Linked DNA regions of Homo sapiens: region 2 is linked to region 1. Evidence: fine-mapped expression QTL. Tissue or cell type: whole blood. Region 1 holds a variant in brackets; the other region holds the start of a gene. All regions are shown on one strand. Distances are from middle to middle.

Evidence for each region. PIP is the estimated chance that this variant, and not a neighbour inherited with it, causes the effect.
Region 2: it holds the start of ICAM1, and the variant in region 1 is fine-mapped to the expression of ICAM1 in whole blood (TOPMed, PIP above 0.99).

The regions. Positions count from the first base shown.
Region 1 is chr19:10,241,725-10,249,724 of GRCh38, forward strand. No RefSeq gene overlaps it. Among named protein-coding and RNA genes, the nearest start is that of MRPL4, 6.5 kb to the right of the region's middle. RefSeq lists an enhancer at 888-967. The variant G/A (reference allele first, on the strand shown) is at 4,833.
Region 2 is chr19:10,266,348-10,274,347 of GRCh38, forward strand. ICAM1 (intercellular adhesion molecule 1) reads left to right here and starts at 4,773. Exons shown (of 7, transcript NM_000201.3): 1 at 4,773-4,879. The coding sequence starts at 4,813. It overlaps LIMASI (lncRNA inflammatory and mucous response associated, antisense to ICAM1), which reads right to left. Exons shown (of 4, transcript XR_007067138.1): 2 at 343-447. RefSeq lists a silencer at 1,686-1,980 and enhancers at 4,335-4,424, 5,335-5,574.

The DNA.
Region 1 (8,000 bases):
TGAGGCAGGAGGATCACTTGAGCCCAGGAGTTGGACTCCGGCCTGGGCAACATAGCCAAACCTCATCTCTTAAAAAATATAATAAAAATAAAGGATATGGCAGACCATGTAAAAAATTTAAATAGAAATTACCATATAGGAAGATGATATCTAATGGGAGGTGCTACCAGAGGCATATGGGGAGAAATATCTTGGGCTGGGTGCAGTGGTTCATGACTGTAATCCCAGCACTTTGAGAGGCCAAGGTGGGAGGATCACTTGAAGCCAGGGGTTTGAGACCAGCCTGGGTAATATAGGAGACCCCCATCTCTATTTTAAAAATCTTTAAAAAAAAAATCCATGTATGGTTGCACGCACCTGTGGTTCCAGCTACTCAGGAGGTTGAGGCAGAAGGATCACGTCAGCCCAGGAGGTCGAGGCTGCAGTGAGCTATGATTGTGCCACTGCACTACAGCCTGGGTGACAGAGTAAGACCCTATCCCTAGAAAAAAAGCAAAAAGAGGCCGGGTGCGGTGACTCACGCTTGTAATCCCAGCACTTTGGGCGGCTGAGGCAGGTGAATCACCTGAGGTCAGGAGTTCAAGACCAGTCTGACCAACATGGTGAAACCCCGTCTCTACTAAAAATACCAAATTAGCCGGGCATGGTGGTGCGTGCCTGTAATCCCAGCTACTTGGGAGGCTGAGGCGGGAGAATCACTTGAACCCAGGAGGTGGAGGTTGCAGTGAGCTGAGATCGTGCCATTGCACTCCAGCCTGGGCGACAAGAGCGAAACTCCGTCTCAAAAAAGAAAAGAAGAGAAAAGAAATATCTTGGCTTCTCCTACCTTCCTCTCGGAAAATCTGCCCCCAGTGCCTCCCATTGGCTAAATGTGGCCAGAAGCCAGTTGGCAGGGGAGATGTCCCGTGCAGAGGTCAGCCCCGAGCCATGCAGGGAGAACAGCACAGGGACTAGATGATGCCAGGGCTCGCAGGCTTAAGCCCTGCAAGAACCATGTGGGTAGGGGCAACTATACCCCCATTTTACAGAGGAGGAAACTGAGGCCTGGAGAGCCAATGTGACATGCCCAGGGTCTCAGGCCCTCAAGGAGGTTGGACTCTCTGGTTCTCGCCAACACCTGCCTGGAGGGCTAGTTCTGTGGCTTTTTTTCTACCCTTCACGCCTGTCCTGGTTGCTCAGGGAACTGTAGGGAATGAAAATATCCATGCAAATCAGCCCCACTGCGGGGAGGCCCTCCGTGGGAGGCTTTGCCCCCTCACGGAGCTTGGCAGTTACACACAAGCTGAGCTGAAAACAAACAAACAGCAGATGTTTGGACAGTTGATGGGGGAGGGGCGCTTTAGGCAGCTCTCCCTAGTATAGGAGACCACCCCTCACCCCCCACCAACAGATCTGTGTCATCCATCCATGCCCTGTACTTTTTTTTTTTTTTTTTTTGAGATGGAGTCTTGCTCTGTCACCCAGGCTGAAGTGCAGTGGCGCAATCTTGGCTCACTGCAACCTCTGCCTCCCGGGCTCAAGCAATTCTCGTCACTCAGCCTCCTGAGTAGCTGGAATTACAGGCGCCCGCCACCATGCCGGGCTAATTTTTGTATTTTTAGTAGAGACGGGGTTTCATCATGTTGGTCAGGTTGGTCTCAAACTCCTGACCTTAAATGATCCACCCTCCTCGGCTTCCCAAAGTGCTGATTACAGGCGTGAGCCATTACACCCAGCCAATCCCATTTTAAAGATGAAGAAAATTGACTGGGTGAGGTGGCTCAAGCCTGTAATCCCTACATTTTGGGAGGCTGAGTTGGGCGGATCACTTTAGCCACCGACCTCATGCTCTGTACCTTCTTTTTGGGGGGCTGCCCCCCAGTATTGCAGGCCTGACCCCTGGCCTTTGTGAGAACCCTTGTTCAGTAATGGAGGAAAAGCTGAGGCCAGATGTTGAGGGGCCTTCCCGCATCTGATATGTGCCCCCTAAATTGGTGTGATACCCACAGCCAGCAAAGACCCTCTCTGGATTACAGGGTTGATGCTGGTCCCACACTACCAAGGACAGAGGTCACCTGCAATTGAGCCTTTGATCCACAGGAGAGGGCTGGTTGCATTGGCCTTTGACCTCTCCCCAGGCTTGGCTCAAAATGGTCAAACTTTGAGCCTTTTGGTGTGAAGGTCCCCTGGTCGTTACTGCCCTTTTATTAAGACTCATAACTGGGGGCCGGACGCGGTGGCTCACGCTTGTAATCCCAGCACTTTGGGAGGCCAAGGCGGGCAGATCACTTGAGGCCAGGTGTTTGAGACCAGCCTGGACAACATGGTGAAACCGTGTCTCTACTAAAAATACAAAAAGGCAGGGTGCAGTGGCTCACGCCTGTAATCTCAGCACTTTGGGAGGCTGAGGCAGGCGGATCACGAGGTCAAGAGATCGATACCATCCTGGCCAACATGGTGAAACCTCGTCTCTACTAAAAATACGAAAATTAGCTGGGCGTGGTGGCGTGTGTCTGTAGTCCCAGCTGCTCAGGAGACTGAGGTAGGAGAATCACTTGAACCCAGGAGGCGGAGGTTGCAGTGAGCAGAGATCATGCCATTGCACTCCAGCCTGGACAACAAGAGTGAAACTCCGTCTCAAAAAAAAAAAAAAAGACTCATAATCAATATGCCAGTTGGGGAATGCTGTGTAAACTGGGGTAGGGACCAGGTGCAGTGGCTCATGCCTGTAATTCCAGCACTTTGGGAAGCCGAGGCTGGAGGACAGCTTGAGGCCAGGAATTTGAGACCAGCCTGGCCAGCACAGTGGGTCTCTGTCTCTACCAAAAATAAAACAAGTCAGCCCAGTGTGGTGGCATGTGCCTGTAGTCCCAGCTACTCAGGAGGCTGAGTGTGAGGATGGCTTGAGCCCAGGAGGTAAAGCTTGCAATGACCTATGATCCTGCCACTGCACTCCAGCCTGGGCGACAGACGGAGACTCTGCCTCTAAAAGATAAAAAATAAAAGCTGGAGTAGGAAGGGAAGGATAAGTTTAGATGCATTGTCACCTAAGAAGGTGGCATTTCAGTAAAGAGCCAAAGGAGATGAAAGAGTGAGACATACAGATATTCAGGGGAGGCTGGGCATGGTGTCTGAAGCTTGTAATCCCAGAATTTTGAGAGGCTAAAGTGGTGAATCACTAGAGGCCAGGAGTTGGAGACCAGCCTGGGCAGCATAGTGAGACTCCATCATGTTTTGTTTTGTTTTGTTTTGTTTTGTTCTGTTTTATTTGAGACAGTGTCTCACTGTCACCCAGGCTGGAATGCAGTGGCATAATCACAGCTCACTACAACCTCCGCCTCCCAGGTTCAAACAATTCTCCTGCCTCAGCCTCCCAAGTAGCTGGGATTATAGGCGCCTGCCACCACACCTGGCTAATTTTTGTATTTTTAGAGAGACAAGGTTTCACCACGTTGGCCAGGCTGGCCTCGAACTCCTGACCTCAAGTCATCTGCCCACCTCGGCCTCTCTAAGTGCTGGGATTACAGGTGTGAGCCACCACGCCTGGCCCTCAGCATGTTTTTTAAAAGAATAAAATAATAAAAGAAACAAAAATAGATATTAACGGGGAAATGGAATGTGATTGGTGGGTTCTGGGTTCTGGTGAGGAGGCCAGGGCGGCTAAAGCCATGGAGGAAGGGGAACAGGAGAATGGAAGGTTAGGGCAGGTCCTGCGGGGACTTGAGGGTTGCATGAGGACTTTGGTTTTAGTGCTAAGTGAAATGAAGGCACTGAGGGTTCTAAGCAGAAGAGGGAAGTGACCTGACTCAGATGTTTACAGCCTACCTCTAGGGGATGGGTAACAGATGATGAGGAGTGAGGGTGGAAGGAAGAATTCATTCTCAACACAGCCCCGTAGGGGAGGGTTTGTGTGTATTTCACTTACAGATTAGGAGGCCACAGCTCCCACTTGCCCAAGGCCATCCAGCCAATTAGTGGCAGTGCCTGGATTCAAACCAGTGTTACTGAATGAATAATCATGTATGGGCACCTTACGTGCCCAGTGACCTCAGGTGGACAGAGATTTGAGACCCAGGGACATAGGGAGAAAGTCCTCTGTTGTTAGCAATACCCCTGCAACAGGATGAACAAAGGAATTCACTCAGGAAACATTTATTAGCTGGGTGTGGTGGTGCATGCCTGTGGTCCCAGCTACTCGGGAGGCTGAGGCAGGAGGATTACTTGAGCCCGGGAGTTGCAGGCTGCAGTGAACTATGATCATGCCACTGCACTCCAGCCTAAGTGACAGAGTGAGACTCTGTCTCTAAAAAGAAAAACAAAAGAACTAAAGAAACATTTATTGAGCATGTACTGTGGTCCAGACACTATGCTGAGTGCTGAAGCTACAGCAGGTAATAGGATAGAGGAAAATTCCAGCCTTGGGTGAGTTTACATTCTAATGGGAGAGGCAGACAAAAAGCATTTTTAGCCAGGTGCAGTGGCTCACGCCTGTAATCCCAGCACTTTGGGAGGCCGAGGTGGGCAGATCACAAGGTCAGGAGTTTGAGACCAGCCTGGCCAACATGGTGAAACCCCATCTCTATTCAAAATACAAAAAAATTAGCCGAGTGTGGTGGCAGGCGCCTGTAATCCCAGCTACTTGGGAGGCTAAGGCAGGAGAATCGCTTGAACCTGGGAGATGGAGGTTGCAGTAAGCTGAGACTGTGCCATTGCACTCTAGCCTGGGCAACAAGAGCAAAACTCTGTCTCAAAAAAAAAAAAAAAAGAAGAAGAAGAAGATAACCATTAGGCCAGATGTGGTGGCTAACATCTGTAATCCCAGCACTTTGGGAGGCTAAGGCAGGAGAACTGCT[G/A]GAGCCGAGGAGTCTAAGACTAGCCTGGGCAATGTGGTGAGACCTCGTGTCTACAAATATATATATATTTTTAAATAGCCAGGTGTGGTAGCACACACGTGTAGTCCCAGCTACTCAAAAGACCAAGGTGGGAGGATCACTTGAGCCCCAGAGACAGAGGTTGCAGTGAACCAAGATCTCGACATTGCACTCCAGCCTGGGTGGCAGAGTGGAACACTGTCTCAAAAAAAAGAAGATAAATATTAATATAGGGCAAGAGAAGAGGGTCAGAAAGGTCAGAGGTGAAGATTTGCTTTTTTATTTTTTTGAGACAAAGTCTCGATCTGTCACCTGGGCTGGAGTGCAGTGGCGCAATCTCAGCTCACTGCAACCTCCGCCTCCCGGGTTCAAGTGATCCTCCCATCTTAGCCTCCTGAGAAGCTGGGACTACAGTCGCACACCAGCACAGAGGTTTCAGTGAGCTGAAATCACACCACTGCACTCCAGCCTGGGTGACAGAGTGAGACCCTGTCTCAAACAACAACAACAAAAACAAAGGAAGCATGCAGTGGGTAGTCCGAAAGGTTCAGCCACCTCTGCCCCCTGTCAGTCTTTCCTCACTCCTGGCCTCTGCGACTGCTGTTCTCTCAACCTGAAACAGACTTTCTCCTCTGGACAAAGTCCTCAAGCCTTAGCTCTCAGGCTACAGCTTCATAAGACCACCCCAAGACCCTGCCCCCGTGGTTGGGAATTCCTCCTGTGGACGCCCACAGACCCTGTAGACTCCCCTCCTGAACTCTGATCCTTCAGGCCTCTGCATTGGACTGTGAATATTTCAAAAGTGTTTGCTGGATTTACTGGTGTACCAGTGGTGCACAGTAGGTGCCTAATAAATCACTAAGAAACTAAGCCAGGCGGCCTAGTGTGGTGGCTCACGCCTGTAATCCCAGCACTTTGGGAGGCTGAGGCAGGCGGATCATTTGAGGTCAGGAGTTCGAGACCAGCCTGGCCAATATGGCAAAACCCCATCTCTACTAAAAATACAAAAATTAGCTGGGCGTGGTGGTGTCTGCCTGTAATCCCAGCTACTCAGGAGGTTGAGGCAGGAGAATTACTTGAACCCAGGAGGTGGAGGAGGTTACAGTGAGCCGGGATCGCACCACTGCATTCTAGCCTGGGTGACAGAATGAGACTGTGTCTCAAAAAAAAAAAAAAAAAACAAAAGGCACAGGGCATGGATGGATGATACAGATCTGTTGTGGGGGATGAGGGGTGGAATCACAAGGTCAGGAGTTTGAGACCATCCTGGCTAACATGGTGAAACCGTCTCTACTAAAAATACAAAAATTAGCCAGGCGTGGTGGCGGGCACCTGTAGTCCCAGCTACTCAGGAGGCTGAGGTGGGAGAATGGCGTGAACCTGGGAGGCGGAGCTTGCAGTGAGCCAAGATCACGCCACTGCACTCCAGCCTGGGCGACAGAGCGAGACTCCGTCTCAAAAAAAAAAAAAAAAAAAAAAAAGCCAGGCGAGGTGACTCACACCCATAATCGCAGCACTTTGGGAGGCCAAGGCGGGCAGATCGCTTGAGCCCAGAAGTTTGAGATCTGCCTGGGCAACACGGCGAGACCCTGTCTCTATGAAACAAGAAAAAAGAAAGAAACGAAATACTGTTCCATCATTTGCCACATAAAATCTAAACTCTCTGGTGCAGAACAGACTTGCAAATCTGCCTGTAAAATCATACACCGGATTTTGGAGTAGACACACAGGAGGCTGATTGTAGTGGTGGCTTCTGGGAGAAGAACTGGGGGGTAGGGGGCACAGATAAGAGTAGACAGAATTTTCACTCTAGTAATCTTTGTAATTTTTGAAATTCTCTCTACCAGGTGTATGAATGACCAATGAAAATATACAATAGGCCAGGCGCAGTGGCTCACGCCTATAATCCCAGCACTTTGGGAGGCTGAGGCGGGTGGATCACATGAGGTCAGGAGTCCGAGGCCAGCCTGACCAACATGGTGAAACCTTGTCTCTACGAAAAATACAAACATTAGTCAGGTAGGGAGCATCACTTGAGAACAGGAGTTCAAGACCAGCCTGGACAACAAAGCAAGACCTCTGCCTCTACAAAAAAAAAAAAAAAAAAAAAAAATTGCTGGGCATGGTGGAACATGCCTGTGGCCTCAGCTACTTAGGTGGCTGCAGCAGAGGATCATCTGAGGCCAGGAATTCAAGACTACAGTGAACTATAATCGTTACACTGCACTACAGACTGGTAACAGGGTGAGATCCTGTCTCAAAAACAACAGCAACAAAATAAACGATTAAAAGACCTTTTAAAGTTGCAAAATACATAGAGTCTTAAACATGCATCCACAGTTATTTATTTATTTATTTAGAAACGGAGTTTCACTCTTGTTGCCCAGGCTGGAGTGCAATGGTGCGGTATCAGCTCACTGCAACCTCCGCCTCCCAAGTTAAAGGAATTCTGCCTCAGCCTTCCAAGTAGCTGGAATTACAGGCATGCGCCACCATGCTCGGCTAATTTTGTATTTTTAGTAAAGATGGGGTTTTGGCATATTGGCCAGGATGGTTTCGAACCCCTGACCTCAGGTGATCCACCCGCCTCGGACTCCCAAAGTGCTAGGATTATAGGCATGAGCCACCACGCCCGGCCGCATTCAGTTATTCTTGCAGGGATAAAATACACAATGAAATACACTATACTTTTTGTTTTCTTTCTTTCTTTTTTTTTTTTTTTTTTGAGACAGAGTCTCACTCGTCGCATGGGCTGGAGTGCGGTGCGGGATCTCGGCTCACTGCAACCTCTGCCTCCTGGGTTGAAGCGATTCTCCTGCGTCAGCCTCCCGAGTAGCTGGGATTACAGGTGCCCGCCACTACGCCCAGCTAATTTTTTTGTATTTTTAGTAGAGATAAGGTTTCACCATGTTGGCCAGGCTGGTCTCGAACTCCTGACTCGTGATTCGCCCACCTTGGCCTCCCAAAGTGCTGGGATTACAGGCGTGAGCCACCGCACCCGGCCACATTTTTTTTTTTTTTTTTTTGAGACAGGATCTTAGTCTGTCACCCAGGCTGGAGTACAGTGGCATGAACATGGCTCACTGCAGCCTCAATCTCTTGGGTTCAGGTGATCCTTCTGCCTTAGCCTCCCCATTAGCTGGGACCACA
Region 2 (8,000 bases), 25 kb after region 1:
GCGCCCACCACCACTCCCGGCTAATTTTTGTATTTTTAGTAGAGATGGGGTTTCACTGTGTTAGCCAGGATAGTCTCGATCTCCTGACCTCGTGATCCGCCTGCCTCGGCCTCCCAAAGTGCTGGGATTACTTATTTTGTTTTTTGTAGAGACAGGTTCTCACTGTGTTGCCCAGGCTGGTCTTGAACTCCTGATCTCAAGTGATCTTCCCACCTCAGTCTCTCAAAGGGCTGGGATTACAGGGGTGAGCCACTGCACCCCACCTTCCCTCTACTTTTTGACGGTTTCCTTCTGCTATGAATGTGCATGTCCAGTTGTCTGCTTCTTAGAACTGATATTTACCTTCCTCATCCATCAGCCATTGGAGGAGGACTGGGACCGCTCAGATTATTGATCTGACCCATTCTTTCGGCAGGGTTTCCTGGTGGCTGTCTTCCATCACCAAAACTGGAATCAGAAGAGTTTCCATAGCCCTTTTTTTTTCCCCACATCTTTGCTGAAGCAGAGTTTTGAAAAACAAAACCACAAACTAAGCTATTCCCCAGAAGAAATCTGTAATCAAAGATAAGCTCTGCCGGGCACAGTGGCTCACGCCTTTTGGAGGCCAAGGCGGGCGGATCACCTGAGGTCAGGAGTTCTAGACCTGCCAGGCCAACATGGTAAAACCTCATCTCTACTAAAAATACAAAAATTAGCTAGATGTGGTGGTGGGTACCTGTAGTCTCAGCTACCTGGGAGGCTGAGGCAAGAGAATCGCTTGAACCTGGGAAGTAGAGGTTGCAGTGAGCCGAGATTGCACCACTGCACTCCAGCCTGGGCGACGGAGTGAGACGACCTCACAAAAATTTACATAAATAAAATGAAAAGTAAAATAAAAATACAAAAGTTGGCCGGGTGCGTTTGCTCACGCCTGTAATCCCAGCACTTTGGGAGGGTGAGGCAGGCAGATAATGAGGTAAGAAGATCGAGACCATCCTGGCTAACACGGTGAAACCCTGTCTCTACTAAAAATACAAAAAATTAGCTGTGCGTGGTGACACGCACCTGTAGTCCCAGCTATTTGGGAGGCTGAGGCAGGAGAATCACTTGAACCTGGGAGGTGGAGGTTGCAGTGAGCCGAGATCGCACCACTGCACTCCAGCCTGGGCCACAGAGTGAGACTCCATCTTGAAAAAAAAAAAAAATACAAAAGTTAGCCAGGGGTGTTGGTGGGTGCCTGTAATCCCAGCTATTTGGGAGGCTAAGGCAGAAGAATTTCTTGAACCTAGGAAACGGAGGTTGCAGTGAGCCGAGATCACACCTCTGTACTCCAGCCTGGACAACAGAGCGAGACTTTGTCTCAAAAAAAAAAAAAAAAAAAAAACTAAATAGGCCGGGAGCAGTGGCTCATGCCTATAATCCCAGCCCTTTGGGAGGCCAAGGCAGGTGGATCACTTGAGGTCAGGAGTTTGAGACCAGGCTGGCCAACATGGTGTAACCCCGTCTCTACTAAAAACACAAAAATTAGCCGGGTCTGGTGGCGTATGTCTGTAATCCCAGCTACTCGGGAGGCTGAGGCAGGAGAATCACTTAAACCTGGGAGGCAGGGGTTGCAGTGAGCTGAGATCGTGCCACTGCACTCTAGCCAGGGTGACAGAGTGAAACTCTGTCTCAAAAAATTAAAAAAGAAATTCAGCAAGTAATGAGTTAAGGAATTCGAATATTAAGGCGAGTGACAAGGAACGCCCAGGATGTGGCCCAGGATGGAGTAGGGGGGACACTCATTTAGGAGAAAGCTCAGGCCACAAGACAGGAGGAGCCAGCCTTGTTGGGGTTGAAGGGAAGAGCATTCCAGGCTGAGGGAACTGCAAGGCGTTTGCATGGGACACTATGGGATGGCTTCTGCCCTTGGTGGGCAGCCTCTGGTCTGAGGCCATTCTTTGGCCTGCCTGACTGTCTGGCAACCGGGAGGAAGCCCTGCCCTTCCTGGAGACAGAAACAAAGGTCTAGGAAATATCTGCTTCCCTTTTCCTTGAAAAACGCTTAAGGGAACGGAGGACTGGGAGGTGCCGTCTCTCTCTGCCAGCCTGCCCCCTACCATAGCCATCCCACTCCCATCTCAGAAAGTGACCCGCCATCCTCCAAAAGGCTCGGACCCTGATCAAGGAGTCATCCCCCTTGTCCCAGCACCTCCAGTTGGCCCAGCCTCCAAAACGGATGTCAAATTCAGCCCTTTCTCCAAGGACACTGCCCAGTCCAGGCCCCACTATCATTCATCTGGACTAGAACAGTCACCTCCTCTCCCATCTCCTGGCTGCAGCTCTTGAAGCCTCAACTGGGCCCCTGTGAACACTTGAGTTAGGGCAAGGTCCTTCCTCTGCTCAGAACCCTCTATACCTCCCACCTCGCTGGGCATAAAAGCCAAAGTCCTGGCCAGGCACGGTGGCTCACATCTGTTATCCCAGCACTTTGGGAGGCCAAGGGGGGCGGATCACTAGAGGTCAGGAGTTAGAGACCAACATGGTGAAACCCCATCTCTACTAAAAATACAAAAATTAGCTAGGCGTGGTGACGCACCCCTGTAGTACCAGCTACTCGGTAGGCTGAGGTGGGAGAATCGCTTGAACCTGGGAGGCAGAGTTTGCAGTGAGCCGAGATCACACCACTGTGCTCCAGCCTGGGTGACAGAACGAGACTGGGGTTCAGAAACAAACAAACAAAACAACAAAGTCCTCCTCAGGTGACAGGAACTTGCACCTATCTGCCCTGTCATCTCCCTGCCCGCTCCTCTCCTCGAATCTCTCCTTTGCTAAGCCTGCTCCAGCCACACTGTTCTCCTGGCTGTTCCTTTTTTTTTTTTTTTTTTTTTTTTTTTGAGTCTCACTCTCACCCAGGCTGGAGTGCAGTGCCTCTATCTTGGCTCACTGCAACCTCCGCCTGCCGGGTTCAAGAGATTCTCCTGCATCAGCCTCCCAAGTAGGTGGAATTACAGGTGTGCACCACCACACCCGGCTAATTTTTGTATTTTGCATAGAGATGGGGGTCTCCCTATGTTGCCCAGGCTGGTCTTGAACTCCTGGGCTCAAGTGATCCTCCCATCTCGGCCTCCCAAAATGCTGGGATTACAGGTGGGAGCCGCGCCCAGGTGGATTTTTGTCTGACTCTGTTCATTCCTGTGTCCCCAGTACCTGGAAGGACGCCAAGCACACAGTAGGCGCTTAAAAAACATTGAGCCACATGTTGAGAAAAGAACGGCACCATTGTGGCTGCAAGTGGGACTTGGGCCGCGCGGGGGAGCTCGCGCACCTCGGGCCGGGGCAAGAGCTCAGTGGAACCCGCCCGAGGAAGAACCCGTGGCGCAGGATTTTCCCAGGCCTTCTGAGGACCAGGGGCGTCCCCCGTCCCACCCTGTGACTTTGCTCAGGCCGTTCCGGGGCGGGAATTCAGAACTCCTCAGCCCCCCAAGAAAAAAATATCCCCGTGGAAATTCCTTGGGAATGACCGAGGCGGGGGAAATATGCGTCTCTGGATGGCCAGTGACTCGCAGCCCCCTTCCCCGATAGGAAGGGCCTGCGCGTCCGGGGACCCTTCGCTTCCCCTTCTGCTGCGCGACCTCCCTGGCCCCTCGGAGATCTCCATGGCGACGCCGCGCGCGCCCCACAACAGGAAAGCCTTAGGCGGCGCGGCTTGGTGCTCGGAGACTTAAGAGTACCCAGCCTCGACGTGGTGGATGTCGAGTCTTGGGGTCACACGCACAGGCGGTGGCCAAGCAAACACCCGCTCATATTTAGTGCATGAGCCTGGGTTCGAGTTGCCGGAGCCTCGCGCGTAGGGCAGGGGTTCGAGCGCCCCTTCTCCCTGCCTCGCCTCTGCGCCTGGGGGCTGCTGCCTCAGTTTCCCAGCGACAGGCAGGGATTTCGAGCGTCCCCCTCCCCTCCCTCGTCAAGATCCAAGCTAGCTGCCTCAGTTTCCCCGCGGAGCCTGGGACGCCAGCGGAGGGGCTCGGCGCGTAGGGATCACGCAGCTTCCTTCCTTTTTCTGGGAGCTGTAAAGACGCCTCCGCGGCCAAGGCCGAAAGGGGAAGCGAGGAGGCCGCCGGGGTGAGTGCCCTCGGGTGTAGAGAGAGGACGCCGATTTCCCCGGACGTGGTGAGACCGCGCTTCGTCACTCCCACGGTTAGCGGTCGCCGGGAGGTGCCTGGCTCTGCTCTGGCCGCTTCTCGAGAAATGCCCGTGTCAGCTAGGTGTGGACGTGACCTAGGGGGAGGGGCATCCCTCAGTGGAGGGAGCCCGGGGAGGATTCCTGGGCCCCCACCCAGGCAGGGGGCTCATCCACTCGATTAAAGAGGCCTGCGTAAGCTGGAGAGGGAGGACTTGAGTTCGGACCCCCTCGCAGCCTGGAGTCTCAGTTTACCGCTTTGTGAAATGGACACAATAACAGTCTCCACTCTCCGGGGAAGTTGGCAGTATTTAAAAGTACTTAATAAACCGCTTAGCGCGGTGTAGACCGTGATTCAAGCTTAGCCTGGCCGGGAAACGGGAGGCGTGGAGGCCGGGAGCAGCCCCCGGGGTCATCGCCCTGCCACCGCCGCCCGATTGCTTTAGCTTGGAAATTCCGGAGCTGAAGCGGCCAGCGAGGGAGGATGACCCTCTCGGCCCGGGCACCCTGTCAGTCCGGAAATAACTGCAGCATTTGTTCCGGAGGGGAAGGCGCGAGGTTTCCGGGAAAGCAGCACCGCCCCTTGGCCCCCAGGTGGCTAGCGCTATAAAGGATCACGCGCCCCAGTCGACGCTGAGCTCCTCTGCTACTCAGAGTTGCAACCTCAGCCTCGCTATGGCTCCCAGCAGCCCCCGGCCCGCGCTGCCCGCACTCCTGGTCCTGCTCGGGGCTCTGTTCCCAGGTGAGTCGGGGTGGGGATTGCCGTCGGGCCAGTTCTCCGAAGCCCCGGGAGGACCGGCTCCCGGGTCAGGTCATGCATGCTTAGGTAGCTGTTTATGGGAAGGAGGGGCTAGAGACAGCGATTGAAAGGCAACAGCCAGTAGGTTCGAATCCAGACCCTGCATACCTCCACGTGTGGCCTTGGGCTATAGATTGCAGCTTTAAAAAAGGGTAGGGGGTTGGAGATGGAGGGGAGGGGCGGGCCTCGTTTTGTTGCCCAGGCCGGTCTTGAACTCCGGGGGTCTAGCCTTACCTCCTGCCTCAGCCTCCCGAGTAGCTGGGATGAGAGGTGTGAACCACCGCCTTGCTTGGCTAGATTGCGTCTCTTACAGTTTCTCAGCTGTAAAACGGGAAACGTTATAGCGGCCACCTGGCAGGGTATCTTGGCCCAGCGCAGCACCTGGCCCCAGGACTCGATCATGATGGTTTGGGAACTTGGCTCTGTGCCAACCCAACAAGGCTTAAGGGACCCCCACCCCCCTCAAGATGTATATTCTGTTCCTCATCCTCTCTGCCCCTGGGGAAGTCCAGGGCTGCTTCTACTTGGGGGAATTCCAGAGCTGACTTATCCGTGGCCCAAAGCTGAGAAGTGGGACGCCCCAGCACACCCTCCCCCAGCTCCAGCCCAGCTAGGGAAGAGGGAAGGGGTCAGAGGGTCTTTCATGGTGGTGTAAGTTTGGGGAACCAGGAGGGTGGGAGATTGACAGCTTGGTTAACAGCTCAACAAAGCCTGAGATCCAGGCCAGCACGGTAGTTCATGCCAGTAATCCCAACACTTTAGGAGCCCCAGGCGGGCGAATCACTTAAGGTCAGGAGTTTGAGACCAGCCTGGCCAACATGGCAACATCCCGTCTCTACTAAAAATACAAAAATTAGCTGGCATGGTGGTGGGCGCCTGTGATCCCAGCTGCTCGGGAGGCTGAGGGAGGAAAATCCCTTAAGCCCACGAGGCTGAGGTTGCAGTGAACCAAGATTGTGCCACTGCACTCCAGCCTGGGAGACATAGCGAGATTCTGTCTCAAAAAACAAAGCGTTCTGATCCGGACTCAGACCCAGATCGCACTGCTTTCTAGCTGAGTAACCATTTCTCTCTATGAAATGGGAATGGTCCCAGAATCTCCCTTGGAGAATGTATGGAGCCAGTGTCCTCACACCCCCATCCAAGATAGAACAAATCTGAGACAGGAATCTTTGAGTGAGGCAGTGCTGGGCTCAGACATTTTTTCCCACCTTCGGAGGCAGCAGAATCTGAGGGACCTGATCCAAATAAGCCCCTTCTTTCTTTCTTTTCTTTTCTTTTTTTTTTTTTTTTTTTTTTGAGACGGAGTCTCACTCTGTCGCCCAGGCTGGAGTGCAGTGGCGTGATCTCGGCTCACTGCAACCTCTGCCTCCCAGGTTCAAACGATTCTCCTGCCTCAGCCTCCCTGAGTAGCTGGGACTACAGGCATGTGCCATCACACCCGGCTAATCACTGTGTTAGCCAGGATGGTCTCGATTTCCTGACCTCATGATCTGCCCACCCTGCCTCCCAAAGTGCTGGGATTACATGCGTGAGCCACAGTGCCCACCCCGTAAGCCCCTTCTTTCTTACCTGCAAGGTAGCCAGTTGCTACCCATCCTGTGCTGAGTTACTTGTATTAGCAAGGGATGGGGTGGCTATACTCACCCACCTTACAGATGGGGAAATTGAGGCCCAAAGAGGGGGAAACTACGTGTCTCAGGGAGTGAGGAGCCAGTCTGATTCCTGGAGGGCTGACTGTCTCCACCTGACTTCTTAGGAGGGAGGAGGGCACCAACTTCACATTAAAATCTGGTTGGACACAGTGGCTCACACCTGTAATCCTGGCATTTTGGGAGGCTTAGGCGGGAGGATCACTTGAGGCCAGGAGTTTGAGACCAGCCTTAGCAACATAGTGAGACCCCATCTCTACAAAAATGTTTTTCAGGGCCAGGCGCGGTGGCTCACACCTATAATCCCAGCACTTTGGGAGGCTGAGGCGGGCGGATTACCTGAGGTCAGGAGTTTGAGACCAGCCTGACCAACATGGAGAAACCCCGTCTCTACTAAAAGTACAAAATTACCCGGGCGTGGTGGCGCATGCCTGTAATCCCAGCTACTCGGGAGGCTGAGGCAGGAGAATCGCTTGAACCTGGGAGGCGGAGGTTGCGGTGAACTGAGATCGTGCCATTGCACTCCAGCCTGGGCAACAAGAGCTAAACTCCGTCTCAAAAAAAAAAAAATGTTTTTCAAATATTAGCCGGGTATGGTGGTGTCCTGTAGTCCCAGCTACTTGGGAGGCTGAGATGGGAGGATCACTTGAGCCCAGGAGTTCAAGGTTACAGTGAGCTATGATTGTGCCACTGTATTCCAGCCTGGGTAACAGAGGGAGACCCGTTTAAAAAAAAAAAAGTGATGGCTAAAGTCCTTCCATGGCTCCCTATTGCCCTCAGTATAAAGAACACATGTGGCTGGGCGTGGTGGTTCACGCCTGTAATCCCAGCACTTTGGGAGGCTGAGGCGGGCGGATCACTTGAGGCCAGGAGTTTGAGAGCAGGCTGGCCGACGTGGCGAAACCCCGTCTCTATTAAAAATACAAAAATTAGCTGGGCGTGGTGGTGCTTGCCTGTAATCCCAGATACTCTGGAGGCTGAGGCAGGAGAATCACTTGAACCCGGGAGGCAAAGGTTGCAGTGAGCTGAGATTGCGCCACTGCACTCCAGTCTGAGTGACAAAGCGAGACTCCATCTCAAAAAAAAAAAAAATAAAAGAACACATCTTTAGCATGGCCTTCAGTGCTCACGGGATCTTCCTGAATTAATCTCCCCCTCTTCATCCTTGCTCACTCAGCTCCAGCCACCCTGCCCCGGGACATCTGTACTTGCCTGGAACTTATTTCCCTTTTCTCCGGACAGCCAGCCCTTTCTCGTCATTTAGATCTCTGCTGAAACATTACCCTGTCACCAAAGCACTGTCTATTCTATCACCCTGTTTTGTTTTTGTCAAAGCTCATATTAACATCAGTTATTAATTATCTTGTTTGCTCATAATTTTTTTTTTTTTTTTTTTGGAGACAGAGTCTCGT